Linked DNA regions of Homo sapiens. The protein of the gene in region 2 purifies or fractionates together with the protein of the main gene of each other region. This does not show direct contact. Each region holds a gene or a part of one and is shown on either strand. Other genes may lie near its edges.

Region 1 (7,762 bases), on a different chromosome or scaffold from region 2:
TCTCCGCTCAGCCCAGAACTGAGGGCATGAGTTTCCAGACCACAACCGCATGAAACCAGTGACGACCTAGCACAGGGTGGAAGCAGACCCACCCCAAGGCTCACCACACCAGAACACTGGGACAAAGACCCTAAAAGCCTGCAGAGACAGAGAGAGAGAGGAAAGAAAAGAGAGAGAGAGAGGAAGGAAGAGACAGAACATGGAATGAAGCCAGTCCCCTGTGAAGGATCTGGGATCAGAACAACACCGGCCCCTCCCAATAGCAACCTAGAACCTAAAAGGCAGAAAAGCTGCACCTTCCAAATTCTGAGGGCGATATTTTATTGCCAACATAGAACTCTATACTCAAACTCATAAAACAAACACAAAAGCAAATGATGGGGGTAGCAGAAAGTCATTTTCAGCCATGGAAGTTCTCCAAAACTATGCCTTCCCAGCACATTTTCTCAGAAAGCTACAAAAGAATGTGCTCCATCAAAAAGAGGGAGAAAACCAAGAAAGGTTGCGGCGTGGGACCAGGAACAACAGATGGAGAGAATTCCCCAGAGAAGAGACACAGAGGCCCAGGATGACAGCTGGGCTGCAGGTCACTAGGACCAGAGGAGAGGCTCTGAGAAAAGGCGCCTGGATTATGGGATGGGTTTCAAAGAAACAGGAGGAGCTTTACTCTTCTGGCAGAGAATTTGGGGATGAATGAGTAATATGGACATAGAAAACACACAGATTAAAAAAAAAAAGGAACTATTATTAACTCCAGGGAAACCAAGTTATTAAAAAGAAATAGTCAGTGGTAAATGACACTTATGCGTCCTTACATTATAAACACCACCTATTGAAATGGTGCTACTGGGAGGGTGGGAGGAGAAACACGAGCCATGGGGCTGGGAGTGGTGCCATGAGAGAGCTAAATTCTCATCCTTTACAGTAGGAAGAGAATAACTAATGTGTTAACTTTTTTTTTTTTTTTTGAGATGGAGTTTCGCTCTTGTTGCCCAGGCTATAGTGCAATGGTGCGATCTTGGCTCACCACAACCCCCACCTCCCGGGTTCAGGTGATTCTCCTGCCTCAGCCTCCCAAGTAGCTGGGATTACAGACATGTGCCACCACACCCGGCTAATTTTGTATTTTTAGTAGAGATGGGGTTTCTCCACGTTGGTCAGGCTGGTCTCGAACTCCCAACCTCAGGATGGGGTTTCTCCACGTTGGTCAGGCTGGTCTCGAACTCCCAACCTCAGGTGATCCGCCTGCCTTGGCCTCCCAAAGTGCTGGGATTATAGGCGTGAGCCACTGCGCCTGGCCACGGTGTTTTTTAAATAAGAAAAGAAAGAAACTGTGGTATGACCATGTGGTCTAGAAAGGTGGAGGCGATCAGCAAAGCACAGACGAAAGCACAGAAAGTTTAGGCTCATGGAGAATGGGAAGGAGTGGGGCAGAAGTTTCCTCTTTCCATTGAAATTAATTGTAGAAATACTGGTATTTGAGGTTTTAAATTTTAGGCTATGTACAACTTCTATACAGATGAAAACTAAATTAAAACAGAGCACAAGGAAACAGATCTGGCCATTCCAGGCTGCCTCTAATGGCACCAGGGAGCCAAGGCAGAGTGGGGACCACCTGGAGTCAGGGTACAAGCTCCCCGGTTCTTCATGGCTGTCCCACGCAGCCACCTCACTCATTCATGTGACCTGCAGGGCCCCTGGCGGCATGTGACATCCCTCTAGGTTCTAAACACACACACACACACACACACACACGTGCCCGCAGACACACACATCCAAACACACATACATCCAAACACACACACACACACACCCGCACATCCCCCCACCCACACGAGGCAGCAGTGCATGTCAATGCCAGGCTAATGGGGGTGGAGTGGGTGCCACACTGCCGGGTTAGTGCTCCAGGAGCAAAGCAGCCAACGTAGTCCAGGCAGGCTTCCTGGAGGAAGCAGTACAACTGCAGAGCCTGAAGACTAAGGCAGGTGTGCGTGCACAGGAGGCAAGCTCGGAGGCCTACTTTTGGCAGCTTCCAGGTCCCAGACACGGATGGAGCCCGACTGAGAGCCGGCCACGATGAGCTCCTCGGGGGTGTTGAGGCGGACGCTCTCCACTGGGGATGTGTGGCCCGTCAGGCTCTGTGGAGAGAGAGCAGCAGCTTCCGTGCACTGCTGGACAGACCCCTGCAGTTGCGCCCTGAATTCCAAGTCCCCCGGAAAGGCTTCAGCAAGAAATGGCTAAGGCAGGAGGGGGAGCCCCATGGGGGCCACAGCCTAGCCCTCCTGCAGGCCCTTTCTGAGCACCTACTCCTCTCGGCCTCAGCTCCCAGGGCTAAGAGTGGCCAAACCCCAATCATCCCCCCACCACCTCCCTCTTCCCTGCTGTGCTTCTGACATGGGCGTCACCTGCAGAAATGGCCCTGGGCCCCTTGGAGGGGAGCGACTGGACAAGATAAAGGGATGCTGTCCCTTCAGCCCTAAGTTAAGCAACCCTGCCCCCGCTCTGTTCCCATCTTCACTCTGCCCCAGGCAAGCCCCTCAGCGAGGTAAGCCACAGCGGAACCAAGGCCTGCCTAGTCCTGGGCACACATCTCGCCCCTCTAGAACCCCTGGCTCTCCCTGACTGCCCATCCCCGTGGAAAGGAGAGGGCTGTGGCGGTTGGAGGAGGGTGGAAGACTTTTCACTGTGGATCCTCTATCTTTTGGATGTTGAACAGAATAAGTGTATCCCATACTCAAAAATAAAAATAAATCCAAGTGGACGGCCTGCAGGGGGACAGCGTGCACAGAAACCCCAAGGGGAGAGAGACCCCGGCAGGCTGGAGGCACTGCGAGGCCTGGGAGGCTGGTGTGTGTGAGCCAGGGCAGGGGCCCGGGGTGAGGCCGGCTGGGGCCTGACAGCTGCACCTGGCGTTCTAAAACAAGCCTGCAGGCCAGGCCCCAGACGGTTGGCCCCGTTTCTCTGGGGGTCGTGGCATGTCCTATTTTTGGTCAGTCATTGGTGATGCTTTTTCAACTTGTGTATGCTACTACTTTGGCATTTCATGGGGGTAGAAAACACATTTGAATCCTAGAAACAAAGTAAAACAAAACAATTCAATTCATCATTACTGACCCCTGGCACCCTTGCTGAGGCTGGGGTGGATCTCAGTTCTCCCCCTGGATCTCAGAAAAACACTGAGGTGATTAAGTTTCTACTAAGAAATTCATCCTTTGCCATATTCTTTTTCTTTTTCTTTTGAGATGGAATCTTGCTCTATCACCCAGCCTGGAGTGCAGTGGCACCATCTCGGCTTACTGCAACCTCCGTCTCCCAGGTTCAAGCGATTCTCCTGCCTCAGCCTCCTGAGTAGCTGGGACTACAGGTGCCTGCCACCACGCCCGGCTAATTTTTGTGTTTTTAGTAGAGACAGGATTTCACCATGTTGGCCAGGGCGGTCTCAAACTCCTGACTTCAGGTGATCCACCCGCCTCAGCTTCCCAAAGTGCTGGGATTACAGGCGTGAGCCACTGTGCCCGGCCTATTCCTCTTCATCTTTATTTCACCAAGAGTCACAACAATGATACTCCCTGGTTGGCAAGGGATGGGGGTTGGGGCAGGGAGGAAAGGGCAGGTTCCGATGCTGCTGGTGAGAATGTAAAATGATTTCTGGGGGGCAATTTGGCAATCTGTTTTGAAAGCTTTAACAAAAGCACACACCCTTGGATTGAATGCAGTGATCACGGATCTGCTCAAGGATCTAGGTGGCTGAGGATGTTCACCACAGGGTGCTTTAGCAGAGCCAAAAAAAGCCGGAAACAACCTCTCTGCTGATAACAGGGTGTGGCTAAGCTAATTACGGCTCATCCCTACAATGGAACACCATTAAGCCATTCAAAATTATGTTGTAAAAGAATACTTGTTGACACAGGCAAATCCTTACAACATTGTTATTTTTAAAAACCAGGCTGCACAAGAGTGGCAGTGTATTTTTATTTATGTGTGTGTGCTTGTATGAGTATTTGTGTGTATACATGTGTACATGCATGTACAAGTGTGCACTTACGTGCATGTACACGTATATGTATCTGTCTCAGCATCTAGAAGGACTCACACCAAAACACCAACTGTGGTGGCCTTTGGATAACGGAACTATATGTAGTTAATTTTGTGTTTTCTCCTTTATGCACTCCTATTTGGAAAACAGTTTCCAGCATTGAACATATAGCTGCATAAATAGTGGGGAGATGCTATTTAAGAACTAGCTCCCTAACCAGCTCCAGCCAGGTCCCCTCAAATCCTCATTGGGGAATGAAGGCTGGGAATGAATTAAAATAAACGCCCACATGTTGCTGCCAGGCAGGCAGATGGGCAGGTGGGAGGGGAGGGGTACAAGTCTTTTGGCTCAACCACAGGCCCAGGGCTTATTTTAATCTTCTCACGCAGCCTGCCTGGAGTTCTTAATAGTACCACAGGCAGGTGACTCCCTCGCTCCTGAGGGCTGGCCACTGTCCCAGCCATGCTGGGCTGTCCTGGGCCTCACTGAGCAGACAGCTGGGGGAAGCACTGATGGTGTCCCCACCACGCCCCCTCCACCCCTGAGCTGGGCCCCAGCGGATAGGGGGCCCTGGGCTCAAGAGAGTCTGAGAAGCTGCTCACTCTTCAGCCTCCAACCCCTGTCCCCGTCCCCTCCCCAGGCCCTTGTCCTGACCCCCCGCCAGCTGTCGGGGCTCACCATGATGCAGTTGGGCTTGTTGATGGACCACAGGTTGACGCGGCAGTCATCCCCGCCTGTAGCCAGCAGCCGCCCGGAGGCTTTGCCCAGCACCAGTGAGGACACGTTGCTGGCATGCGCGACGATCTCTTCTACACAGGGAAGGAGAGGGAGAGGCCATCAGGGCGGCCCGATGGGGCCTTGTGAAGGAGGGGTGACCCTGCTCGGCTACCCGCTTTGGAACCTGAAGCCCAGTGGAAGGATCTGCCTCCTTCAGCTCCCCCTTTGGTGTCCACCATGAGCTGCAGGACCAGCAGACAGGGCAGGGCATGGGCCTGAGACGGAAATCACTGTTTCTCAACTTTCATCATGCCTGTCTTTCCTACCTTTAGACTTCACGATTTTCTTCCTGTTTCTGCATATCACCTGGTAATATTGACTAGTTATACGCAATTTTTAAAATTGACTTGCTATTTTTATTAGCTTGGGCTTAAGCAATGTCCATGAAATTACAAGTTTGATATACTCATGATACTCTTTCTATGATACAAAAAGAAAAACAATTATTGAAATAAAAAAAATTGACCCATGCACTGCCTACACACCTCTCAGCTGCTGCTTGTGTGTACATACAAACCCTGCTTTGGAGAACACACTTTAAGAACAACCGAAGTCACCTCTAGACAAGCTGCCCCCAGGTAAGCCTGCACAGGGCTTCGGCTCAGATTCACAATCACGGATCAGGTTCTGGTCTGAGGTCTGTGATCTGCTATTGCGTGGCCTTGGCTACTAGGTCACTTGTCCTCTGAGGGCCTGGCTCCTCGTCTGGAAAGTGGGGATGCCCGTGGTGTCTGCTCACACCTGATGCTGAGGACTCCCTCAGAGCGCGCCTACGTGCTGCTTAGTAGCAGGCGAGGGCTCCGTGACATTGGGCAGGCTCGGGGCTAGTCACCATGAGAGAGTGGGCATGGGGGCCTGGGCGGGCACCAGAGGGTGGGCTTCATGAGGAGGGGGCAGGAGGCAACAGACTGAGCAGCTGGGGTGGGGGTGAGGGCTGACCACACAGAGGAGGAGCCTGTGCAGACAGCCCAAGGCCCTGGCCTGGTCCGTGGAGATGGCAGACAGGAGCCTCGGAGGACTCCGCAGGGAGCAAAGCACAGGCAGGGAACCAAGAGGCGGCCCGGGCCTCAGAACCCATCCCTGCATGAGCTCCTCCTGGAAAGAAGGGAGAAAAAAGACAGTTCTCCCCACACAGGCCAGGGGAAAACCCCAAGGTGCTGACGCCCCGAGGCACCCGGAAGGCCAGCGTGGGTGACGCCAAGGAAAAGGGTGTTGGAGCCACGGCGCTCCACAGAGGCCCCTCCTGCACCCCAGCTCCGACTCCACCCTGCCTGGGTGTCTCTGCTGCGGGCTTCAGACCACAAGGAGGTTGGGAAACTGGGCCCAGGGAAGCTGCTTGCCAGAAACCTGGGCTCCAAGGGGCCACCAGGAATACCCAGGGGACAAGTCGCAGGCTGAATCTCACTGATGACACCCTGCCTCCTGGGCCGGTCGGGGCAGAGCCAGCACAGGCAGCAGCGCCAGCAAGGGCGAGGGTTCCCTGTGGGCCCAAACCTGGGCCAGGGCGCTGGGAGTTCGCCATGGGGATCCCAGGGAGCTGGGCCCCACTTTAGTCCCGTCTCGATGAGAGCCTTCTGTCCTCTGGACACTGTCGGGACAGAAACCTGAGGAATTCCAGCCACAGACGTGTCTGTTCAAGGTTTCCACCTGACCCAGAAAGAGGGCAAAGCACCTTCTCCCTGGCATTCCGTGCCCGAGCCTGGTGTCCTCTCCGTGGAGGCACTGCTCGCTCCCCCTGGCCTACCTGGAGGGCTCTGTCTGTCCCCTGGCCCTCACTCCTCCCAGGGAAAGTGTCTGGCTGGGCCCCACCTCACTGGGCCTCAGGACTGCTGCCCCTGGAGTCAGGGGCATTCATTCATAATATCAGTATTTCCTGGGTGCCTGTTCTAGGCCTTGCACGAAATATGCCCCAGTATAATCAGATGGTGGTGGGGGCGGGACACTGAGCTGGCAAAACCGCAGACTTTGGAGTGAGAAAGATTTAGAAGTTGGGCCCTTCTGGAGGAGCCCACATCACTCCCCTCTAAGCAGCCTGACCAGGGACTGACTGGAGCCCACAGAGGGAGGGCAGAGGGGCAGGGACACAGCACAGGCACCTGCAAAGGAGGCACGGGGCACCACCCCAAGAGCTCCTCCTTCATCCTGGCTTGTTGGACAGCAACCAACAGCCCAGGCCGAATACTTGATTTTCATACCAAAAATAAAAAATAAAAATCCTCAGTGTCTACTGGCAGGCCAAGCTCTGGGAGTACAACCTGGGCCCCACATCCAGCCAAAGCTGGGGAACATGGTGCGGCGTGGCCAGAGGGGCTGAGGATCAGCATCCCAAATGCAAGATACAAAGTACTAGGTTTCAACGACCTCATGTGGGCCACGCACCTCTGATCCTCACCAGACCCTGGAGCCACAAGGAGCCAGAGGTCACGTGGCCCTGGGCTCTTCAGAGTTGATTCCCACGGACACCACCGTGCACATGAAATCAGCAGCAGCAGCAGATGCCCAATACGCCTGATCTCATTACCTCCTGCTCGCACACACTGATGGCTTGGCCTTGCCTTTATGATAAAGCACGGCAGCCTCAGGAGGGCTGGGGTCCTGAGAACTCAGTAGGTCCGTGCGGCCCCACATTCCTCCTGCTGCTGTGCCACTGCCCATGGCCTCCCTTGAGTCCTTCCAATACACTGAGCCTCCTGCCTCAGGGCCTTTGCACTTGCTGTTCATGCAGCCTGCAGCATTCCCACCCCACCCCTACCCCTACCCCCCAGCTAACTGATTCAAAGCACAGGCACCAGCTTGCAACTAGAGGAGACACAGAGGGATACGGTTATCCAGTTCCTGCCTGTTGCTCTCCCCAGGCTCTGAGCTCCCGCTGTACAGAGACCTTGACTACTTTGTCCCCCAGTGGCTCCCCAGTGCCTAGCTCTGGGGAAAGGCCAGCTGTCGAAGGGA
Region 2 (8,924 bases):
GTTTGAGACCAGCCTGGCCAATATGGTGAAACCCGGCCTCTACTAAAAATACAAAAACCAGCCAGGCTTGGTGGCTGGCGCCTGTAATCCCAGCTATTTGGGAGGTTGAGGCAGGAGAATTGCTTGAACCTGGGAGGCGGAAGTTGCAGTGAGCCAAGACTGTGCTACTGCACTCCAGCCTGGGTGACAGAGCAAGACTGTCTCAAAAAATAAATTAAAAAAATAAAATCTCTGTATTTCAAAGTTAAGCTAATTTGGTTTCTGCCTCTGAGAAAAAGGAAGATGCCTCAAGCATTGTCTTTGGTGGATATGTGGGAAACTTCATTAGAAATAATCTAGTCTTCACCATTGTGTTCCTAGGTCCTAGCCCTTGTGGCTGCCATAGAGTAGCAGCTCAATAAAATTTGTTCAATAAATGACCAGCTATTCAAAAGCTTTCCAGAAACGGGAACACAAACTTCTACAAGAAACAAAAGGCATGCTGGCATTAGATTGATCATCAGCTGCACTAAAAATGGTGGAATAATAGCTTGAAAGTTCAGGGGGAAAATGATTTTCAACTTGAGACGCCTCTACCCAGTCAAATTACTTGCGAGGGCAATATAAAGACATTGTTACACATGCAAAGACTCAGAAAGCTTACCTGCCAGACACCTTTTCTTAAGGAGGAGTTATTAGAGCAGGTACTCCATCAGTAAAAGAGCAGAGTATCCTGAGGAAGCCATGGGATTCAGGCAGCTGCAGATGTGACTCAGAATGTCAGTTTTGTGGGTGACTAAGCCACCAGTTCATATCTGAGCAAGAACGGGGGATCCAGGAAACAAAGGTATTTCATGGAATATACAGTTGGAAGAACTTGAAGATATACTTCAGGCAAAGAAAAGGAAAATAAGAAAAGTACCTAGAAATTATATTTCCTAAAAGACTCTACAAGAAAATCACAATACAAATATGAGTTAAACTGAGTCATCAGTGGGCTTTCAAAAAAATATTCCAAGAAAATAGAATGGGTAAGATGGCACAGATTTCTTTCAACAACAAAAAAGTACTAGGCAAAGCAACAACAACAAAGTAACCATGATTTTGAGAAACTGAACAGCACAGGGTTGAGACATTGTGATTACACAGGAAAATCAGGCCCAGCAAACTGCTTAGCTCTGCTGTGGACCAACATTTTCATAATGTTAATGCTGCTTATTGGTTATTGTCTATTAGAACCAACTTATAGAAGACTTAGGCCGGGCGTGGTGGCTTATGCCTCTAATCACAGCACTTTGGGAGGCTGAGGCAGGCAGAGGTCAAGACCATCCTGGCCAACATGTTGAAACTCCGTCTCTATTAAAAATACAAAAATTATCTGGGCGTGGTGGTGCACGCCTGCAGTCCCAGCTACGTGGGAGGCTGAGGCAGGAGAATCACTTGCACCCCGAAGGCAGAGGTTGCAGTGAGCTGAGATGGCGCCACTGCACTCCAGCCTGGCGACAGAGCGAGACTCCATCTCAAAAAAAAAAAAAAGAAGACTTAGTTACAGAAGGGAATATAAATGTTATCAGTTGTGGAAATCTAAGAGAGTACAGCTTTGAAAAGTTTGGAGGTACAGAGGTTTGAGGCTGCAATGAGCTATGATTGCACCAGAGGTACTCCAGCCTGGGCAACAGAGGGAGGCCTCATTTCTAAAAAATAAGAAATTTGGAGGTAGAAGCAGAGGTGGGGAGTTCAAGGGAAGTAAGAGTTCTTCCTATCATGAAATGGAGAACCAAGAGGCGCTGTCTGTATTTAATAGAACTAAAAACAACAGTTTAAGGATATTAAAGTTACTAAAGTGAACAATAGGACTAAATCATAGTGTTAACTACCATGTGCACCTTAGGGGGGTGAATTAAGCTGACTTTTTATCAGTCCTTGCAAGAGTCAATAGTGTCACAAAATAGCAGCTTAATCCTATTCATACAGTTGAAGATCATCAGGAGAATTTAAAACCACAAAGGTCAAAGTGGTTGCCCTTTGGAAGTGGGACTGAAGCTGGGGAGATAAAAAGCAAGGAACAATTGCTTTTTGTTCTAGGTCTTCCTCTACTCAACTTTTTTTTTCCCCTTTGACAAAACAAAAACCAAACATAACAATCCTGGTGAGGGTCAGAGATCATCTATTTTAATGCCTGGAAATATATTCGGTGAGTCATCTTGTGGCTCTTAAACCAAACCGAAGTTAAAAAGTATAAGAAAGTCTATATAACTGTAGACTACAAAGCAGTTAATACAGAGTGAAAACTCCCAGTCATCTCAGGAGAAGTGGCGTTTTATTATTTCTGGATATATCCAGAAGCTCTCCTGGCTGGGTATCCACAGCTTGGCAACAGCTGCATAAAAAGGGGGCCAGACCTTCTCTCACCATCCCCTCTCCCTACCCTCACCAGTCTATTCTTACTGACTTACAGGTTGAATTGCATCCCCCACAAAATATACGCTGGAGTCCTAATGTGCAGTACCTCAGAATGTGATCTTATTTGGAAATAGGGTTGTTAAGGATATAATTAGTTAAGATGAGGCCACACTGGGGTAGGATGGTCCCTCAATCTGATATGACTGGTGTCCTTATACAAGGGGAAATTTAGACTCAGAGACAGTACACATAAAGGAAAGGCAATGTGGGGGAGAAGAAGGCCATCTACAAGTCAAGTACAGAAGCCTGGAACAGATCTTTTCGTTCCAGCCCTCAGAAGAAACCAACACTGTCAACACCTTTATTTTGGACCTCTAGCCTCCAGAAGTATGAGATAATAAATTTGATTAAACCATTCATTTAGCTTGTGGGACTCTGTTACAGCAGCCCTGGCAAACTAATACACCGATGGAACAAGGGAAAGAATCCCTTTCATGACTGCCATCATTGGGTGGGAAAGAAAAGCATTAAGCACCTTTGTCATCTTCTCCCCTGATGCTGTCACAAATTTAATCTGATAGAAATCTGTCTTTTGCTCAGTTCTCAAGAGCAGCATTCTGAGTACAGGCATGGGCAGTATTTTTTTTTTTTTTTTTTTAGACAGAGTTTCGCTCTATCACCCAGGCTGGAGTGCAGTGGCACGATCTTGGTTCACTGCAACCTCCGCCTCCCAGGTTCAAATGATTCTTATGCCTCAGCCTCCCGAGTAGTTGGGGTTACAGGCGCCACCCACCATGCCCAGCTAATTTTTGTATTTTTAGTAGAGACAGGGTTTCACCATGTAGGCCAGGCTGGTCACGAACTCCTGACCTCAGGTGATCTGCCTACCTCGGCCTCCCAAAGTGCTGGGATTACAGGCCTGAGCCATCGTGCCTGGCCTTCTTTGTTTTTAATTGAAACTAGTCTTTGTATAGAGTACAAAGAAAGCAGTGCAGATGTTGTAAATGTTGATTTGTAGCATTTCCCTTCTCTTATCACCACACTACAGAATAGTTGTACATTAACTTTGACATTGTGGAAGGAAGGCAATTGGAGCTGGCCAGAGCAAAGCCATTTTGTTCCTGAATGCCATTTTACAACTGCCTGACTGCAGAATGTACTTGCTGATGTTGCAGACAAAATTGCTGCCATTATGAAAAGGACTTCATGCTGAGGACTGAACTTTTCTCAAACCCCTGAATCAAGGACTTTTGCCTAGAAACCAATGAACTGTCATGATAACGCTTTATCTTCAATCAAAATAGTGGGTTACGAAGGTTATGGATGAACTAGTGAGAACTGACTTCTTACTTCCTTTAAAAACCCTACCCAAAAATAGCTGGTCAGGACACAATTCAAATGCTTCTGGAATCTGTGTTCCTTGAACTGCAATTCTCAGACTGCCAATAAACTTCTTTACTTGGATTTCGGTCTCTCTGACTCTGGTTGACACGTTATAATGAACACGTTCAGCGCTTACAAGTAAAGGGTAACCAGATGTTGTTCACAGTAATCCTATGAGGTAGGTTCTATACTTTTATACAGAGGGATTTAGTTACTCTGCTGTATTAGTTTCCTAAGGCTTCTGTAACAAACTGTGACAACCTAAGTGGCTAAAACGACACGAATTTATTACCTTACAGTTCTGAAGTTCAGAAATACAGCTCACTGGGTTAAAATCAAGGCGTCAGTGTGCATGGTGGTTTTCCTGTAGTCCCAGCCACTCAGGAGGCTGAGGTGGGCGGATCGCTTGAGCCCGGGAGCTCAAAACCAGTCTTGGCAACATAGCAAGACCCTGTTTCAAAAAACAAAAAAATCAAGGGGTCAGCTGGACTGTTACTTCTGGAAGCTCTGGGGAACAATTTGGTTTTTGTTTTTTGTTTTTCCCTCCTTTTCTAGCTTCTCCTCCTTTTCCACCTCCCACCTCCTCCTTTATATATATATATATATATATATATATATTTTTTTTTTTTTTTGGAGACAGGTTCTTGCTCTGTCACCAAAGCTGGACTGCAGTGGTGGGATCATGAGCCCTCTCCAGCTCTAGTGATCCTCCTGCCCCAATCCCCCGAGCAGCTGGGACCACAGTGCCCGTCGCTATGTCTAGTTAATTTTTCGTAGAGACGAGTGTCTCACTATGTTGCCCAGGCTGATCTCGAACTCCTGGGCTAAAGTGTTCCTCTCCTGCCTCTGCCTTCCAAAGCACTGGGATTGCAAACATGAGACACTGTGCCTGCTCCTCTTCCAGCTTCTTGAGGCCAGCTGCATTCCTTGGCTGTTGCCCCTTCCTCCACCTTCAAATAGCTTTCTCATACTGACCTTCTTTTTGGGCCCCTTCCACTTTAGAGAACCCTTGTAATTACTTTGTAATTACCCAAGCACACACTCCAAGATCGTCACCTTATTTTAAAGTCCGCTGATAAGCAACCTTAATTCCATCTGCAATCTTAACCCCCTCTGCCAAGCAAGAGAACAAACGCACAGGTTCCAGGGAGTAGGATGTGGACATCCTGAGGCGGAAGCATTATCCCGCCTTCCACAATTGCCCAAGGTCACATAGCTAGTAAGTTCTAGCTAGCACTGAGTGCTGTGCCCGTGAAATTTATCTACATAGGCTTTCACTTAACCTGCAGACAGAACTCAGTTAGTCGGGGACAATTTCCCTCAATGTTAACAGCACTGTTCCACCGCAACGTGGAACAACAGCTTTAAAACGTGCTCTTCGTAGGCCCGGCTACTCCAAGAACAGTGCCTCCCGCCAGACCCAGGCGGCTTCCTTCACCCGCAACCCGAGAGACGACCCGCCGGGCCCGCCCCGCGGAAGCCGCCGGTTGCCAGGCCAAGGAGTGGACTAGGGTCGCCGGGGAAGCGGGTGAGTGGTCCCCGCCCTGGCGGGCTGCCTCTAGAACGAGGAGGGCGGCGCGTGGTCGCGGCGCGGAGCCGAGTGGGAGCGAGGGGTAGACGCGCCCCGGACGCGCGGCCGCGCCCCTCACTTCCGCCCCGCGGTCTGGACCACTCGCCGCAAACCCGCAAGTCCCTCGCCGCCTTGGGGTCTGGGCGCGCGGTGCCGTGGGGGTCAGCAGGGCGGAGCGGCTTTTCCAGGAGAAAGGGCCCTCACGGGTGAGCGGGGCGACTGGGCTCCCCCGCGGTGCAGTTGCCCCGCGGGCGCCGGCCCCGGCTCAACGGATTCTTCTCGCTCGCTGCCCGGAAAGAACCAGTGAGAACCGCTGTTGCAGCAAAAAAAGAAGTTAATAAGCGCAGGGCTGGCCAAACCAGAACAGGGTCTCAGACCTGTCTCCCCGAGAATTCGGGGGCGAGGGTTTTAAAGGGCATTTTGGCTTCGGGGGGCTGGGGAACTGAAACAGTTGACCGGCTGGGGATGAAATCACAAGAGCTTCTGAAACTCGGGGCGGCTTCGTTGGTTCCCAGGAAGGGGTGGGGTCAGTTTCCCTTGTCTTGAAGTTTACACGAAATCCCTCTCCCAGTTATCCTAGCCTCTGTGCTAGAATAAGAAAACGACAACACGGTGAAAACTTAGCCCGTGAGGTTAGAAGCAAGATGGAGTCAGTCATGTTAGATTTCTCGCATTACTTATACATCTGTAAAGGTGGTTTCAGGGACCTTTCTGAACTTAGCCCGTATCTCACTGGTGATCCCACTTCTGGGTATTTGCAAATCACTTTATTAGGTTTTTAAAAGTATTGTTGCAGGCATGCGAAGGGGCCGATATACTTTTGCCATGTCCAGAGTGTATTCAGGTCTTGTAATGATCATATGGGTGTAATATTGAGTAACAGGCAAATGTGGGCAGAAAATATCAAATGTGGTTTTCAGCTAAGAAGTCTGGTTGCTCTTAATTTTCAGTTACTCTCCATTGCATAGAATAAAGCCCCGAAGAAACGAAGAATAAGATCATGGGGAAACTTGGCTTCCATGTTAAACCGTGTAATACCAGGTGTTAGAATAGTAGTAAAGGACTTGTTTCTTTCACATCTATATACACTCAAAAGACCTCATCGATCTTGGAAAAACATTGTTTCGAAGACAATGTGTATGACTGATTTGGTTATATGAAGAAATTATTTCTAGGATTTCCTGGTAATTCTGTGATAAACAGTAATACAAACTGGAATTTTTACAGGTCACTATAGTAGAGGTTTTAGTTTGATTTTTGCTTTGCCTGTCATGCTCTCTCTGCCTTATAATTCTTTGTGGTGTAATTAAAAAACGAACACTAGGGCCGGACGGGGTGGCTCACGCCTGTAATCCCAGCACTTTGGGAGGCCGAGGCGGGCGGATCATCTGAGGTCGGGAGTTCGAGCCCAGCCTGACCAACATGGAGAAACCGCGTCTCTACTAAAAATACAAAATTAGCCGGGCGTGGTGGCGCATGCCTGTAATCCCAGCTACTCGGGAGGCTGAGGCAGGAGAATCACTTGAACCTGGGAGGTGGAGGTTGCGGTGAGCCGAGATCGCACCATTGCACTCCAGCCTGGGCAACAGGAGCGAGACTCCGTCTCAAAATAAAAAACAAACACTGTAAGCTTTTTGAAAAATCAAGTAAATTCATTACAGTGTTTTTCCTGCAATGAAAAAGAATGCATCACTTCCCTAAGGTTTTAATAATCATAATAGCTGCCAGTTATTCAGGACCTTGTATGTACCAGGCAAAGTGTTAGGAACGTTTTATCCATTTTCTCTTATGTGCTAAGCAGTCCCGCTAGCTGCTTCATCCTGGAAATATAGATGGGAGACTGAAGTCAAGGACTCCAACTGTGTGTTTAACATCTCTCTTGACTCCCAGGAACCTCCAGTTTGGCATGTCCAAAATGAAACACATGTCTGTCTTCTATCAATATGTTTTGCCCAACCCCTGCAACACTCCCACTTCCAGAAAAATCACACAAACAAAAAACCACACACACAACCATTGTGCCTTTCCTCTCTCAGGGAGTGCCAAGAAACCATCTGGTTCATGCCAGAAACTTGGGAGTCAACCTTGCCCCCTTCTCTGCTTGCCCCCCATAAATCTGCCACCACAAATCCTGTCAACTGTTCTTACATCTTTCCTTCCCATTTTTTCTGACCCCATTGCCTCCACTCTATTCCATTTCATTATTTTCCTGCCTTTTCTATTGTTGGAGCCTCCTAACTGGCCTGTGTCTCTGAGCTGGCCTTCCTGCCCCTCCTCCACTGGTCCATTTAATCTGCAATCTGAGTGAATGTTTTTTCTAATATGCAAATATGATTATATTGCCTTCTTGGTTAAAATGCTTCAGCAGCTTGTTACATTCTTCTTTCAATTTCTTGAACTGAATGTAATTTCTTTAGCTCTTAAATATGCAATTTCCTCTTCCTTGATTACTCTTTTCCTCCTCTTTGTCTAGCCAAGTTTCATTCATCCTTCAGGCTTCAGCTTAAATAGCCTACATTTGTTGAGGTTTATGGTTATCTCTGCATGGGATGTCCACGTTGGCAGGGACTATGAGAGATTTTTCAGATTATAACATCTGACTCAGAGTTGGTGCTCAGTGTCTGCCTGTTGTATGTAGTATAGGGGAGGAAAAACATTTTTTCTCTGCCCTCTTAGGTTCAGTAGCTGGGCCCTGCAAAATAAACTGATGAAAGATAGATTAACAGGAAAAAAGGTTTATGCATAAATGTAAAGAAGTGGTTAGACCAGGGGGCTCATATGCCATTTTAACAAAGAGTGATAAATTATAGAGAAGTAACTAGACAAAAGTAGGGGAATGCTTCTTGGGTAAATTGTAGGAAGGTAAATATATGGCGGAAGCTAACATAAGATAAGGGTTATTCAGTAAAGTTTGTTATGTGGACTCAAGTTGGTGCCTTCCCCATTGGTAAGAGTTGCTCTCCTCTTCCTGGTACTGGAAAGGAAGACACATTTACAAATGGATATTTATTACCTGTACATAGGAAAATTTATGCCCTGCATTTATACAAAAAAGGGAGGGCAAAGAGCAAATTGGTTTCAGCTCAAAACAATTCTTACATGAAAGTGGCATATTTTGGGGTAGCATACACTGATCCTCTTCAAAAGGAATAATTTGCTTTTCTCTTATCATGGTTATGAGAGCTACTTTGAATTAATTTTTGCTTTTTGAAAGTACATTTAATTCTCAAATGTTTCTGCTTTTGAATGCAGTTTGGGAGAGCCCATGGTGACTGCGTGAGTGGAGCCCAGCTGTGTGGATGCCCCAGCATGGATGACTACATGGTCCTGAGAATGATTGGGGAGGGCTCCTTCGGCAGAGCTCTTTTGGTTCAGCATGAAAGCAGTAATCAGATGTTTGCCATGAAAGAAATAAGGCTTCCCAAGGTCACTACTAAAGAAATTAGCTCACTTTGAAAGTATACATGCAGTTTATATAAAAGAATAAGTTTTTGGCCAGGCACAGTGGCTCACACCTGTAATCCCAGCACTTTGGGAGGTGGAGGCGGGTAGATCACCTGAGGTCAGGAGTTTGAGACCGGCCTGAGGT

The links. The genes of interacting proteins can lie anywhere in the genome.
Region 1: the proteins of NEK3 (region 2) and KATNB1 purify together in Homo sapiens (affinity purification with mass spectrometry; 2 studies listed by BioGRID and IntAct, with this or other methods). This does not show direct contact.

The regions. Positions count from the first base shown.
Region 1 is NC_000016.10:57,738,770-57,746,531, reverse strand, and holds part of KATNB1 (katanin p80 WD40 repeat-containing subunit B1), read right to left. Parts: intron 4,846-7,762; coding exon 4,715-4,845; intron 2,139-4,714; coding exon 2,021-2,138; intron 1-2,020.
Region 2 is NC_000013.11:52,155,912-52,164,835, reverse strand, and holds the start of NEK3 (serine/threonine-protein kinase Nek3), read left to right. Parts: upstream 1-5,238; 5' UTR 5,239-5,293; intron 5,294-5,380; exon of another isoform or gene 5,381-5,638; intron 5,639-7,489; exon of another isoform or gene 7,490-8,587; 5' UTR 8,588-8,644; coding exon 8,645-8,761; exon of another isoform or gene 8,762-8,924.